Linked DNA regions of Homo sapiens. The protein of the gene in region 1 interacts with the protein of each later gene in a pairwise test. Each region holds a gene or a part of one and is shown on either strand. Other genes may lie near its edges.

The links. The genes of interacting proteins can lie anywhere in the genome.
Region 2: the proteins of OTX2 (region 1) and HOMER3 interact in binary tests that used the Homo sapiens proteins (3 or more experiments, as listed by UniProt).

Annotation. Positions count from the first base shown.
Region 1 is NC_000014.9:56,799,534-56,808,839, forward strand, and holds the end of OTX2 (homeobox protein OTX2), read right to left. Parts: intron 6,135-9,306; exon of another isoform or gene 6,043-6,134; 5' UTR 5,924-6,042; coding exon 5,827-5,923; intron 4,831-5,826; coding exon 4,655-4,830; intron 2,823-4,654; coding exon 2,202-2,822; 3' UTR 372-2,201; downstream 1-371. UniProt on the Homo sapiens protein: Transcription factor probably involved in the development of the brain and the sense organs. Can bind to the bicoid/BCD target sequence (BTS): 5'-TCTAATCCC-3'.
Region 2 is NC_000019.10:18,927,639-18,931,217, forward strand, and holds the end of HOMER3 (homer protein homolog 3), read right to left. Parts: intron 1,997-3,579; coding exon 1,805-1,996; 3' UTR 1,565-1,804; downstream 1-1,564. Other genes in the region: probable ATP-dependent RNA helicase DDX49, read left to right, coding at 128-216, 327-398, 490-678. UniProt on the Homo sapiens protein: Postsynaptic density scaffolding protein. Binds and cross-links cytoplasmic regions of GRM1, GRM5, ITPR1, DNM3, RYR1, RYR2, SHANK1 and SHANK3.

The DNA.
Region 1 (9,306 bases):
TATCGTCATTATTGTTTTTAAAGAAGGGGTAATCTTTCCCTGCCCCTTGCGGGACATCCTGAAAACTGAAGGCAATGGTAGAAAATGGTTATTTTGATTCTGCATTACTGTTGCAGAAGAAAAGCTGGGAGATTAAGACACTGAATCTGGGTAAACCTCAGGCCCCAATTTAACTTCGTGTAAACTACAGTATGTTGAAGGTTATCAATAGGTGCTGAAAACTCTTGCCATCAAATTTGGCCTCAAATTTTGGTTGCAAACTATTGCATTTCCTTTACCAGCGAACCAATTTACTTATTAGGAAAAATTACAGAGTTCAAGAGAGCATGCGCAGCCAGGGACCGGAAAAATGAAATAGCCAGAAAACAAAATGGTTGCAACTGCTAACCTTCATTTAAAACGTTACAATCAAGAGTCACTTAATTTTGGTCAGCTGTAAGAGCTTAAGCAGCTTAAAATGAAATTAAATATTGCTTTTACCTGAGGAGCACCATGATCATTGGCCCATTTGTCTTTTCTGGTGACTGGTTTACAAAATGCAGGTACAACTGAAAAGGGACCCATTTTTTCCCCCTCGGCACTTTCTTAAACACATACACACAAACTGACCAGGGTGCCTTATGTTCAACTACTGAAATTATAGGTTTTAAAACTTTTCTGAAACTCTTTTGTTCAGGAATCATTTCTGCCTGAATTACTTTCAGATTCTGATTACACTCCCTCTCATGTTTACCTCAGTTTTTGGAAGTTAAAAAAAAAAAATCCCCTTAATCAAATAAGAGAATAGTAACAAGAAATTCTTGTCATTCTCATGTTTTCAGAGATACTCCAATTCTCCTCCTCCCTCTTAAAAACTTGATATATTTTAAAACATTCTAATAAAGTGCCTAAGAAATCGTTCAGGTTTGAAGTAGGGAGGGAAAAGCAAGGAAAACAAGATCTTGTTGTTAGGCTCTCCAAACTCAATTTCAGAGCAATCCTGATGAAAGTCACAAAAAGTCTACCTACCACTGTCATTCATATCTATTTTATGCATAGATTAGCAAAAAAAAAAAGTAAAAATAAGTTTGCTAATTTACTCTCTGTCCTAAGAAAAACGTGTTTTGGGGAGGAAAGGCTGAATGTAGGCTTCTTATTCATAAATAGCGGTGTAAAATTAAACTGGACCCAATGTTGTGCTAGAACCATTTTAATATAATTATACATATCTGCCAAATCCAGGAAGAAAAGGTTTATGCATATATAACTTTTCCATTTAACATCTGCAAGCATAAACGACAATGATCTCAGTTTAATAATTCATCAGGGTCAGAGCAATTGACCAATGTCTCTTTACTGCTAGGCTTACCAACAGTAAATTACAGATGAATTAGTGTCCTTTTGCTTCTCTTCTCTGACTCTCTTTGTCCAGAGACATTTTGTCGTAAAGTTTCAGTGCAGCTCACCTCCAGCCAAAGGTAATCTTTTTAGATCAGTACTCAGTTGCTCTGAATTTTGCTTATAATTATAACCTATTTAATCACAGAAGAACCCCTGCAGAGGTGGAGTTCAAGGTTGCATACAATAACAGGAGATCACAGTTTTGAAGTCTAGCACAGATTAAAAACCACAGATGTACCATTTATAAGACACACACTGATTGTCTCTTAAACTACATATTGACTCCTTATGAACATTATTTTTTAAATAAAGTAGTGCATCTAGGACAATCAGTCACACAATTCACACAGCCCTGAAAAGTTTTTTCAGTGCCAACTACCAGTTGGTCATGAAACGTGAATGAGCTTGAGACACTGTTCATTCCTAAGATTCAACCAAGGATTGGCTAAAACAATGGAACACCTCTGCTTAAGAAGGCTATGACCTTCCCTCCCTTCCTTCACAACTTAGTTTTGTTTGATTTTATTTTTGGTGGTGTTTGGTTGCACATGGCTAGAATGCTTTTGATCACTTTGCAAATCAGGATAACCAATGATCTAAAACTATGACAGGATCTTAAGCAGATTGGTTTGTCCATTTCATGTTGCTGGTTTGTAGGCCCCTCTAAGGCCCTTCGTTTTTCCTTCTATGCCTCTCGGAACTTTGATCAGATGAGTCTGAGCATCATCCCATCTAACTCTTTTAACCAATGCCTGGCTAAAACTGGAATGTCCAGCCCAGTATATTTAAAAATCACCCACAAAAAGAGGTTCTACAGGTCTTCACAAAACCTGGAATTTCCACGAGGATGTCTGATCTTTATAATCCAAGCAGTCAGCATTGAAGTTAAGCTTCCAGGAGGCAGTTTGGTCCTTATAATCCAAGCAATCAGTGGTTGAGTTAAAACCCAAGCTTGAAGCTCCATATCCCTGGGTGGAAAGAGAAGCTGGGGACTGATTGAGATGGCTGGTGACTGCATTGGTACCCATGGGACTGAGTGTGGCCCCTGGTCCGGGAAGCTGGTGATGCATAGGGGTCAAATATGATCCACAGTCCATGCCCCCAAAGTAGGAAGTTGAGCCAGCATATCCTTGACTATAACCTGAAGCCTGAGTATAGGTCATGGGATAGGACCTCTGCATGCAGGAAGAGGAGGTGGACAAGGGATCTGACAGTGGGGAGATGGAAGCTGGGCTCCAGATAGACACAGGAGCACTGCTGCTGGCAATGGTCGGGACTGAGGTGCTAGAGGGGGGAGTGAATTGGCCACTTGTTCCACTCTCTGAACTCACTTCCCGAGCTGGAGATGTCTTCTTTTTGGCAGGTCTCACTTTGTTTTGACCTCCATTCTGCTGTTGTTGCTGTTGTTGGCGGCACTTAGCTCTTCGATTCTTAAACCATACCTTGGAAGGGAAAGAAAATTCTTTAACTCGGTTTTGATAGTTCCTTAAGGACAAGAATGGCTCCCGTATTATAAATCTATCCTACATGGGCAGATCAGCTAAACACACAATTTCCCCTGCCACTGAAGACCTATTATGTGGTACTCTCATATAAACTCCTGGACTTGTAAGAAAGTTGGGGAGGCTCTGTCTAAAAACACTTGACACTGTCTTATTTCTTGCCCAGAATAACATTTAAGATAATCCCCCAAATCATATAGCTAAAAACTCTCCACATCACTTTCCTATCTTATTTCGCCTCTAACACACACATACACATAGACCCAGCTATATTTTGGAACACTCTCACAGAGGAATAGAATGTATCTCTGTCTTTTGGAGGGAAATACATGAGAAGTGAGAGAAAGCAATTCTGTTGTTACAGGCTAACAGGAACAGCCTAAATTCATTTACAGTTCATCTTCCAGGAAGCAACTGCTAATATAGAGGTTGGTTGGTTCCATCACCCTTCTGTCTCTCTTAGAAAGACTCACAGAACAAAGCTCCAAGGGGAAGACATGATCTTGTTGAAGAAAGAGGTCTGAAAGCCACTATTTGCTAAAAGCTTCTTTGTGGTAAAAGGAGTGACTTACATGCACTCTGCTTTGAGCTGGAGCACAGACCTGCTAGTCTCTGGGACTCGAGTCTGTGTTGTTAGAGTAGTGCCACTCAGCACATAGACTCAGTCTCCTGTGCTGTGTTTACTGACTTACCACTTCAACCCCCTGCTGCAATCTTGACAATTCTCTTTACCAGCCCTGTTCATGTTCTGCAATGAAGGAGCTATGATTGGTGTACGAGGGGGCTTAGAAGAGGAACTACTGGCATTTTCTGGAGGACAAATCCTTAGCTGAACTTTTGAATGAGCTCTCTGTATGGGTGCCGTAACTGTGGTAAAAGTGAGGCCACCAAGGCCAAGCTCAAGACCACCAACCATTTGGAGCCATTTGTTTTCTCCTAGTGAGGACTTTGGTTCAAGCCTTGCAAGTGCTAAAACTTCCTCTAACCTACTTTGAAAAAGCCCCTTTCCCAATTTGCAGCTGACACTGATGTCTGTCGCTTTCATAAACATATTCTAGCCGAAGGAGAGGCCCAGGTGTGTATGTGGTTTATGTGCTAAACACTTTGCAGAGAATTCTGTACAGGGCTCACTCACAAGGCAAGCTGGAGTTGACCTTCCCTCTCCAGTTTAAGGTCAAGTTTAGGGGAACTAAAACAAGAGGGGTGTCACTAGAGACATTATGTAGATATTTTATCTGTTAAATGGCTCAGAACTAGAAAATTCTCTTCAATCCCTAAGAAGTCAAGGAAAATACATTCTTTTTGTGTTGATTTATTTGGTAAAAGCACCAGCTGCGTCTATACCCTGACTCTGCCACCAAACTTAGTTATGACCTTGAGCAAGTCATTTACTCTATTTTTTCATCTGTAAAAATACTTGGACTGTCCAAGAGCTAAGCTGCTTTCACACGTACAAGTCCATGAGAATAGGAGAGGATTTCTATACAGAGGAAGGGAAGGGTTACAACACCACGTGACTACTCTTGAAACCTGCTCAAGGATGGGTCTCTCTCCACCAGCAACCCGGGCCTTGAAGACCCTTGCTTACGGGATTAAGTGGTGACGGGCAGGCAAAAAAGGGCAGAAGGAGAATAGTTTCCTGGCCCCTTAGTGAGTGAAGGAGAATTTCAAGCCTTCCTTCAGTCCTCTGAAAGACCTGGGGCTCTCCACAGTCCCATACTCGGGAAGGGTGGCATGATCAGGAAGGATGGTTCTGCCTGCATCTGCCCTACCTGCACCCTCGACTCGGGCAAGTTGATTTTCAGTGCCACCTCCTCTCGCATGAAGATGTCTGGGTACCGGGTCTTGGCAAACAGTGCTTCCAGCACATCTAGCTGCGCCCGAGTGAACGTCGTCCTCTCCCGGCGCTGTTTCCGGGGGGTGGCTGCGGGACAAGAAGCCCAGGGCCCTTTAGGGTGGGGGAGCAGTTTCTCAGTCATAGGCGTTTCCGCGGGTTCTCCGACGCCCCTGCCCTCCACCCCGCAGCAGTCCCCCGTTCCTCACAGCCCTTCAGCCGGGAGCCTACCAATGCTCTCCCCACCGTCTCCCCAGCCTTGCTCCCCGGGGACCCAGGACACACGCTGCTTCTTTCCCTACTCTTCTTGGTGTTGAGATTGCTCCAATCAGAGCATCACTTGGAAAGTTAACAAATGAAACATTTTTTAAAAGACACACAAAAAAGTTCTCCAAGATCAACCCCCAAACCACAACACAAAAAGGCTATTCCAAGAAGTCAAAGGATCTCCGAGGACAGACTGGCAGCTCGAATTGATGGGGGAAATCTGGATCCTGTTCCCATGGTTTTTAGCACACCATGGGCCTTTGTTCCTCCATCTTTAAAATGGGGACATAGTTCATACTCCTGGGAGGATTTTTAAACATATCTGATTGGAAAGGAAAGCACCCGCATTTGGAGGAAGTCACGCCTCTTGGGATTAAAGCAGGCTCTGGAGGTCATAGGGGAAGGCCTGGGCATGGAGGGAACAACTGCGAAGCCCGAGAGTGCTAAGGACTTACGGAGGGAAAACTCAGCTTCTCCAAGAGGACACTTCTGAGGAATTGGTCATTGAGATATGGGTAGGGGTCTTTTGCCCAAATGACAAGGACAGTAACCTTCCTCATCCCACTCTGATGCCAATCCTTATTTACTCGAATTAAGAATAAAGTGATGTGATTGTAACGGTTGCAGACCCACCTACTCACTTTTCCCAACCCCTGTTCTCTGCTTGGTCAGTAAATGCCCTGGGACTGCTTCCTCAGAAGGCAAACCTAGAGGAGACCAAGCCTGAAGCTGGGTGGGGACAGTGTGACTGCCAACCCCCGTGTTCCATGGGAACAGGGTGTTGCATCCCCGGAGGGTGGGCATGGGGAAGAGGGGTGCGGGAGTGCAGCAGGGCTCACTTACCCGGGTAGCCCACGGAGGGGTGCAGCAAGTCCATACCCGAAGTGGTCAGACTCAGCCCATTGACTGCGTAAGGCGGTTGCTTAAGATAAGACATCATGCTAAGGTTGTTTGGAGGTGCAAAGTCGGCCCAAATCGGGGGTACCCAGCTGGAAGATCTTGATGCGCCCGGGGTGGACAGGTTCAGAGTCCTTGGTGGGTGGGTTTGGAGCAGTGGAACTAAGGGCAAAGCAAACAAACAAACAGAGGGGCTGGTTTACTGCTTCGGAGGCAGCAGCTCTTCCACGTTCCAGCACTAACTTAAAAAGAGCACGGACTAGGCGAGGCAGAGGCTTTTAAAGGACTTGCAGACACTCCCCCCACCCCCATCCCCACCCCCACCCCCAGCTGCTCTGGAACTAGAGGGGATGGAAGGAGACCAGATAAACCTGTCTTCCCCACCCCCACCCTAAACTTAAAAAAAAAAAAAAAGTACCCGAAGAAAGCAATTACAATCTGCCTTCCCCAAGAACAAAAACCCGTGCCTTCAAATGCACACATTGCATTCCTATCCCTACATTTGCATAGGACTCATTGGCTGGCACTAGCTAATTGTCTCAAACAAAACTTGATTGGGGCCATTTGCAGAGACAAAGAACTCTTTGGCTAAATAAATAATGCTGATAACAAAGCCCATTGGTGAGAAACAAAGAAACAATTCAAGAAATCTACCTCTCCCCAGACTGTTGCCTTTCCATGGCAGAGATTTTAATTATCTTAGCTTTTTACCACTTTCAACTGCTGCGAACCTAAAATGTCAGTGCGTTTAACATCTAAAATACCAACTCACTAAACCACAAACTTGGAAAAACCGCTCAACCACTATTATTCCACATTTGAAGTCATTTCCGGTAATCATTTTCACCTAATTAGTAGTCTGGGTAATTAGATTTCGAGGTAAGTAACAGATTTATTAGGGTTTTGGAGAATCTTGATTATATGTGTCTAAGGAACGAAAGCTAAACAAACAAGTATTTAACTTTTAATAGACACCCATCAAATATTTAAGCATATTCCAAAAAAGTCTTCAAGATTGGCACAGGGCTTGCCAGAAATTGTGAAGTAAAGTTAGAATCCCACCAATCAGATAATGACGGGACCCCACATTTGTAGTGCAAGCTGCTTCCATGTTGATTTTGATGTGTGGAGGCTGCAGATCCTGCGGGAGGCAAATTTTCAGACATTTGGGTCCTCGGCAGCTGCAGCAGAGTTTCCTGTTAACTCTAACTGCCTTTTGCACATTTTAGTTTTGAAGAAAGTAGATACACAAACACCCAAAGTTGTGAAACTAGTAGAATTTCTCCCTACCTTTCAAGTTTCCTACAATCCTATAAGAAAAAGAGCTCAAGGGGGAAAAGAAAGGAAGAAAAAGAAAAGTTATTTACTTTCTTCAGCTGAGCTCCCCGCCTCCACCCCAGCAAAGAGATTCAAAGTAGATGTTAATATAGACTGGCAGTTTGCAAGTCTGGCCTTTATTTTCCTAAAATGTGGCACTTATATGCAAGGATCTCTACTTTGAAACTTTGACACCATGAGAGATTGCTTCAAAATGGCGGATACAAGATAAAGGTCTCACTGACTTTAAAGGACTCCGGGTTTTCATATTTACGTTGCTTAAGACAGCAAGGCACAAAAGTCCATAAATGAAACTTAGTAACTGCAACTTCTTTCTGATTTAAATTCAGAGCACAAAAGTCATGCTTTTCTACCCTAAGATCTAACTTAATATAATTTTATAAATGTCTTTCTTGGAGGAGTTTGTATTATCCTCAGTACAACTAATTTAGTTGCCCCTACAATACAGACTTTATGTTTTTGTATTGTCTTTTCTTTTCAAAATGCTGTTCTTTGGAGGCTGCGAAAATAAACAAAAATCTCCAGCTTAGAGGCTGTTTAAACACATATGCGACAGCTTTAAAATACAGTTGTATATGTGTTTAAACAGCCTCTAAACTGGAGATTGGAGATTTTTTGTTTAATCGTACTACCTTGCAAAATTCTGAACTACAGTGCTATAGAGAATCGTAAAATCATATCAGATGTACCCTTGAGAAATATGGAAATGTTCTTACATGTAGAGCTCTCACCCAATTAGAAATGCCTGACACATCATACAATAAAGTAGCACATTCCAACATAAAAAGCCAGTAACACACAGAAAGCACCAGGGCCGAGATCCTTCCAGGGGCTCCTTTGCCCTTACCATTGCAAAATGGCTAAAATTCTCAAAATAGACTATTTTCACTTTTGCTCCTGGATCCACCTTTAAAAGGAAAAGAGGAAAACCAAAACCCAAAACTAAGAGATTCTCTCCACAACCGGCCTAGGTATGCACTCTGCATAGAAGGCATGGGCCCTTCAATCTAACTTTCAAAGCTCTTTTCCTCTCGAAGCAGGGTCCAGAACGGGGAAAAGAAATAACTTTTGAAAAATCCACGCCTCACTATGACTGCTCACGAGGTGGCCTCTGGAGAACTCATACCTAGAAGCTGACCGCGGTCGCGCGGCGAGTTCCGGCAGCCGGTCGGCGACCGCACCTCCGGGCGCGAGTGCCTGGGTCCCGCGTTCCTGCCCGGCAGCCCCGCAGCCCCGCAGCCCCGCAGCCCCGCAGCCCCGCAGGCCTGGCGCCCGAGGTCCCGCTCCACTGCCCGCGCCCCCCGCGCAGCCTTATATCTAACGGTCAATTCGTGCAATCTGTCGCTTCTCCCTCCCCCACGCCTTGTTTTTTTTTTCTTCCAAGAAGCCCATCTACCAGTTGCTGTGTCCTCGCTCAACAATAATTACCTCGTCCGAGAATTAATTATAATAAATGTTTTCTTGATAAACTAACGAGATAATCCGAGGGGCACACGTCCCTTAATTACAGGCCGCCATGCTCCTCTCTGCTTCTCGTCCGGGCTGATTAATTTTCTGCATGATGGAAAGGAAACAAAACTACGCGGACTGGCGACTGGCCTGCGGCTGGGAAGACGACGAAGAGGAGGAAAGAAAGAAAAAGGAGACGTGTGGGCACCGCGGAAAACGGCCGGCGCTGGCCTCTCTCCGGCGAACTCGAGTGAAAGTTTCTGGCCTCGGGGAATCAAATAACTCTGCCACCCGCGAGGGAGGGAGGAAGAAACGTGCCAAAAGGGTTGGCCTTGACTATTAATTATCGTTGGGAGAAAGCCCCGGTGTTAGCGCTGAGGTCTGGGTGTCTACCTTACTCTGGGGGGAGGAGTTCCCTCTCCTACTCCCCTCTGTTGCTAATAACTTTTGGTGCCTGTAAAAAGTCCCGAGCTGAGCAGGAGAAATCCTGACCCCGAAGCTCTAGGATGGAGGGGAGAATTTCTAGGAGCGACTTCCCCGTCCCCTCCCCAAGCAATCCACCACCGCAGGGTCGGCGCCGCTCGGCCTTCGCTCCCCGCGCACCAGTTCTATCTGTGAAGGAAGCAAAAGCCAACTCGG
Region 2 (3,579 bases), on another chromosome or scaffold:
CCTTACCTGATATGGCCCCAGATGGCCTTGCATACCCCACAGCATGGGGAACTCACTACTTGGCTGAACTCCCTCTCCATGTCACGTCTCCTCCCCACCCCCACCCCCGGCTTTGCTGTCCCCACAGAGAAGAAGCTGGAGGAGTTCTCCGTGGAAGAGGCCGAGGTGCTACAGATCCTCACACAGGTCAACGTGGTGCGAAGAGAGTGTGAGATCGTGAGTGTCAGAGGCGGGCAGGAACTAAAGTGCTCTCCAGGGCCGGGGGTGCTCCCTTCCAGGTGGGGCCCCCGTGACCAGCATCTCCTTACCCCACTTCCCTCCACCAGAAACTGGAGGCGGCCCACTTTGACGAAAAGAAGGAGATCAACAAACGGAAGCAGCTGATCCTGGAGGGGAAGGTGAGGGCCGAGCCCGCAGGTAGGGGGTGGGTGGCCAGGTTCCCTGGCGGGGGCCGCCAGCTCAGCCATCCCCTGGTCCTCCCTGTGCCAGGACCCTGACCTGGAGGCCAAGCGCAAGGCTGAGCTGGCCAAGATCAAGCAGAAGAACCGGCGCTTCAAGGAGAAGGTGGAGGAGACGCTGAAGCGACAGAAGGCTGGCAGGGCTGGCCACAAGGGGCGTCCACCCAGGACACCGTCTGGGTCCCACTCAGGCCCAGTCCCCTCCCAGGGCCTGGTCTGAGCCCCACACGGCCATCTGCCCAGTCCTTGACTCGTCCATGGAGCTGAGGGTCGGAGGAACCTTCCTTGGGGGCAGCAGCCCTTCCCGGGGGCCTACCCAGTGCCCCACAGCAGAACCCGTGGGCGCTCGTGTTGTGCGGGCCCTGCTCCTCTGCCCCGAAACCACTGGCTGGTCCCTTCCCTGAGCCCTGGCCAAGATTCAGGCTGCAGGGGAAGAAAGAACATGACCGGGAGGTTGTGACCCCAACCCAAGGTCACCCCCCAGGGGTGCCGCATACAGGAGGTGCTTAATAAACGGGTCTTTTGACTTCCTCAGTCTGACTTTCGAAGAGCAGGGGGACAGGAGAGGTGGGGTGCAGCCGCTGTTGTTTCTCAGGTGTCTGCCCAGAACACCATGTCCATTTCCACCAGGCAGGCCCAAAGTTTTGCAGACACCAGCTGCTCGAATGGCCATGGGATTTTGGGCCCTGAAGCCCCTTCTCTGGGCTTCCAGTTTCCTCATCTGGAGAATGGGCATAGCAACTGCCCTGCTCTCCAGAGGCAGCTGTGAGGCTTTGGTGAGGTCAGTCCTGTGCCGAATGGGTGCAGCTATAAGCTTCCCTGGCCACCCACCTGGCCACATCTGGGGTTTGTGGCCAGAGTGAAGGGGCCATGAAAGTCCAAATTTGGCCAGACAATGTGGGCTAAGCCCAAGGGGACAGGCAGAGAGACACCAGAGCCAGCTTCCTGGCTGTGTGGCCTGGACCCCCCTCGGACTCCAAGCCTCACCCCTCATCTGCAAGCGGCTTATAACTGCTACATGGATTCAGGGGCACCCAAAAAGACGCAGGGAAAGGCGCCGGCGACATGTTAAGTGCCCAGATACCCACATACCACACACACACAGCCACGCTTAGAAATGTAATCGGGGGATCTAGAAATTCTACACAATGAGAAGCTCAAAAACAGCCCCAAAGCTGCCAACAACCAGAGCCGACTGGGGCCCACCCCAGCCCAGCCCGGCCCGGCCCACCCAGGGCTAAGTTGGGACCCCCCAGTCCCTTTCCAGGACGAATGGGCCCAACTATGCCGCCTGCAGCCTGGCCCGCATCCCAGGCCGGAATCGTTCATAGAAAACCAGCCCCGGCTCAGGGCGCAGCCTCAGCCAGGCGGGCCAGGCCCTCACGCAGCTCACTCAGCTCAAACAGGCTGACGTCCAGCAGCTGCGCTGCCCGGCCCACCTCAGCCCGCGCCCGCTCCCGCTCTGCCCGTGCCTCCTCCAGGCTGCGCTCCATCGCCCGCAGCTGGTGCTCCAACTCCGCATTGCGGGTCTCCAGGTCCTGCCAGGAAAGGGTGGGCAGGGTTGGGGGCCCCAACAAATCACCAGTCCTGCCCGAGGCATCCAGAGTCTGACCACCTTCATGTCCCTCTTCTGCCCAGAGCCATCCTAGGGCGCCCAACACACCAGGAATAAAATGCACACCCCACAGGGGCCTAGCTTCTGCCCTCATTTCTTTTGTTTGTTTGTTTGTTTTTGAGAAGGAGTTTCGCTCTTGTCGCCCAGGCTGGAGTGCAATGGCGTGATCTCGGCTCACTACAACCTCCGCCTCCCAGGTTCAAGCAATTCTCCTGCCTCAGCCTCCCAAGTAGCTGGGATTACAGGCATACACCACCACGCCCAGTGATGGCTTACACCTGTAATCCCAGAACTTTGGGAGGCGGAGGCAGGTGGATCCCCTGAGGTCAGGAGTTCAAGACCAGCTTGGCCAACATGGTAAAACTCCATCTCTACTAAAAATACAAAAATTAGCTGGGCATGGTGGTGCACACCTGTAGTCCCAGCTACTCTGGAGGCTGAGGCAGGAGAATCGCTTGAGCTCAGAAGGCGGAGCTTGCAGTGAGCCGAGATCGCGCCACTGCACTCCAGCCTGGGTGACAGAGTGAGACTCCATCTCAAAAAAAAAAAAAAAAGGCTGGGCGCAGTGGTTTACGCCTATAATCCCAGCACTTTGGGAGGCCGAGGCGAGTGGATCATAAGGTCAAGAGATCGAGACTATCCTGGCTAACATGGTGAAACCCCGTCTCTACCAAAAAATACAAAAAATTAGCCGGGCATGGTGGCGAGCACCTGTAGTTCCAGCTACTCGGGAGGCTGAGGCAGGAGAATGGAGTGAACCTGGGAGGCGGAGCTTGCGCCACTGCACTCCAGCCTGGGCAACAGAGTGAGACTCCGTCTCAAAAAAAAAAAAAAGTACCCCCTGAACATTTCTCAGATAAAGCCTTTAGCAAAAGCCAAGCCAAGGCCAGTCGTGGTGACTCAAGCCTATAATCCCAGCACTTTGGGAGGCTGAGGGCAGATTGCTCACGGTCAGGAGTTCGAGACCAGTCTGGCCAACATGAGGAAACCCCATCTCTACTAAAAACACAAAAAATGCCCGGGCACGGTGGCGCATGTCTGTAATCCCAGCACTTTGGGAGGCCGAGGCGGGCAAATCATGAGATCAGGAGTTGAGACCAGCCTGGCCAACATGGTGAAACCCTGTCTCTACTAAAAATACAAAAAATTAGCTGGGTGTAGTGGCGGGCGCCTGTAATCCCAGCTACTCAGGAGGCTGAGGCAGGAGAATTGCTTCAACCCGGGAGGTGGAGGTTGCAGTGAGCTGAGATCGTGCCATTGCACTCCAGCCTGGGCAACAGAGCGAGACTCCATCTCAAAGAATTAAAAAAAAATAAAGCCAAGCCAAGCCAGACCTAGTTCCAATGCAGGCTCTGTGATCTCAGGCTGAGAACAGGAGGAATTGACGGGGTCTGGCATGGGAATACAGCAGGAACTCAAGCATTGCTTGTTGAACCCATAGATGGATATGAAACTGTACCAACAGCCACTGTTCACGCGGCACCTGCTGGGCATCAGGCCTTCCAC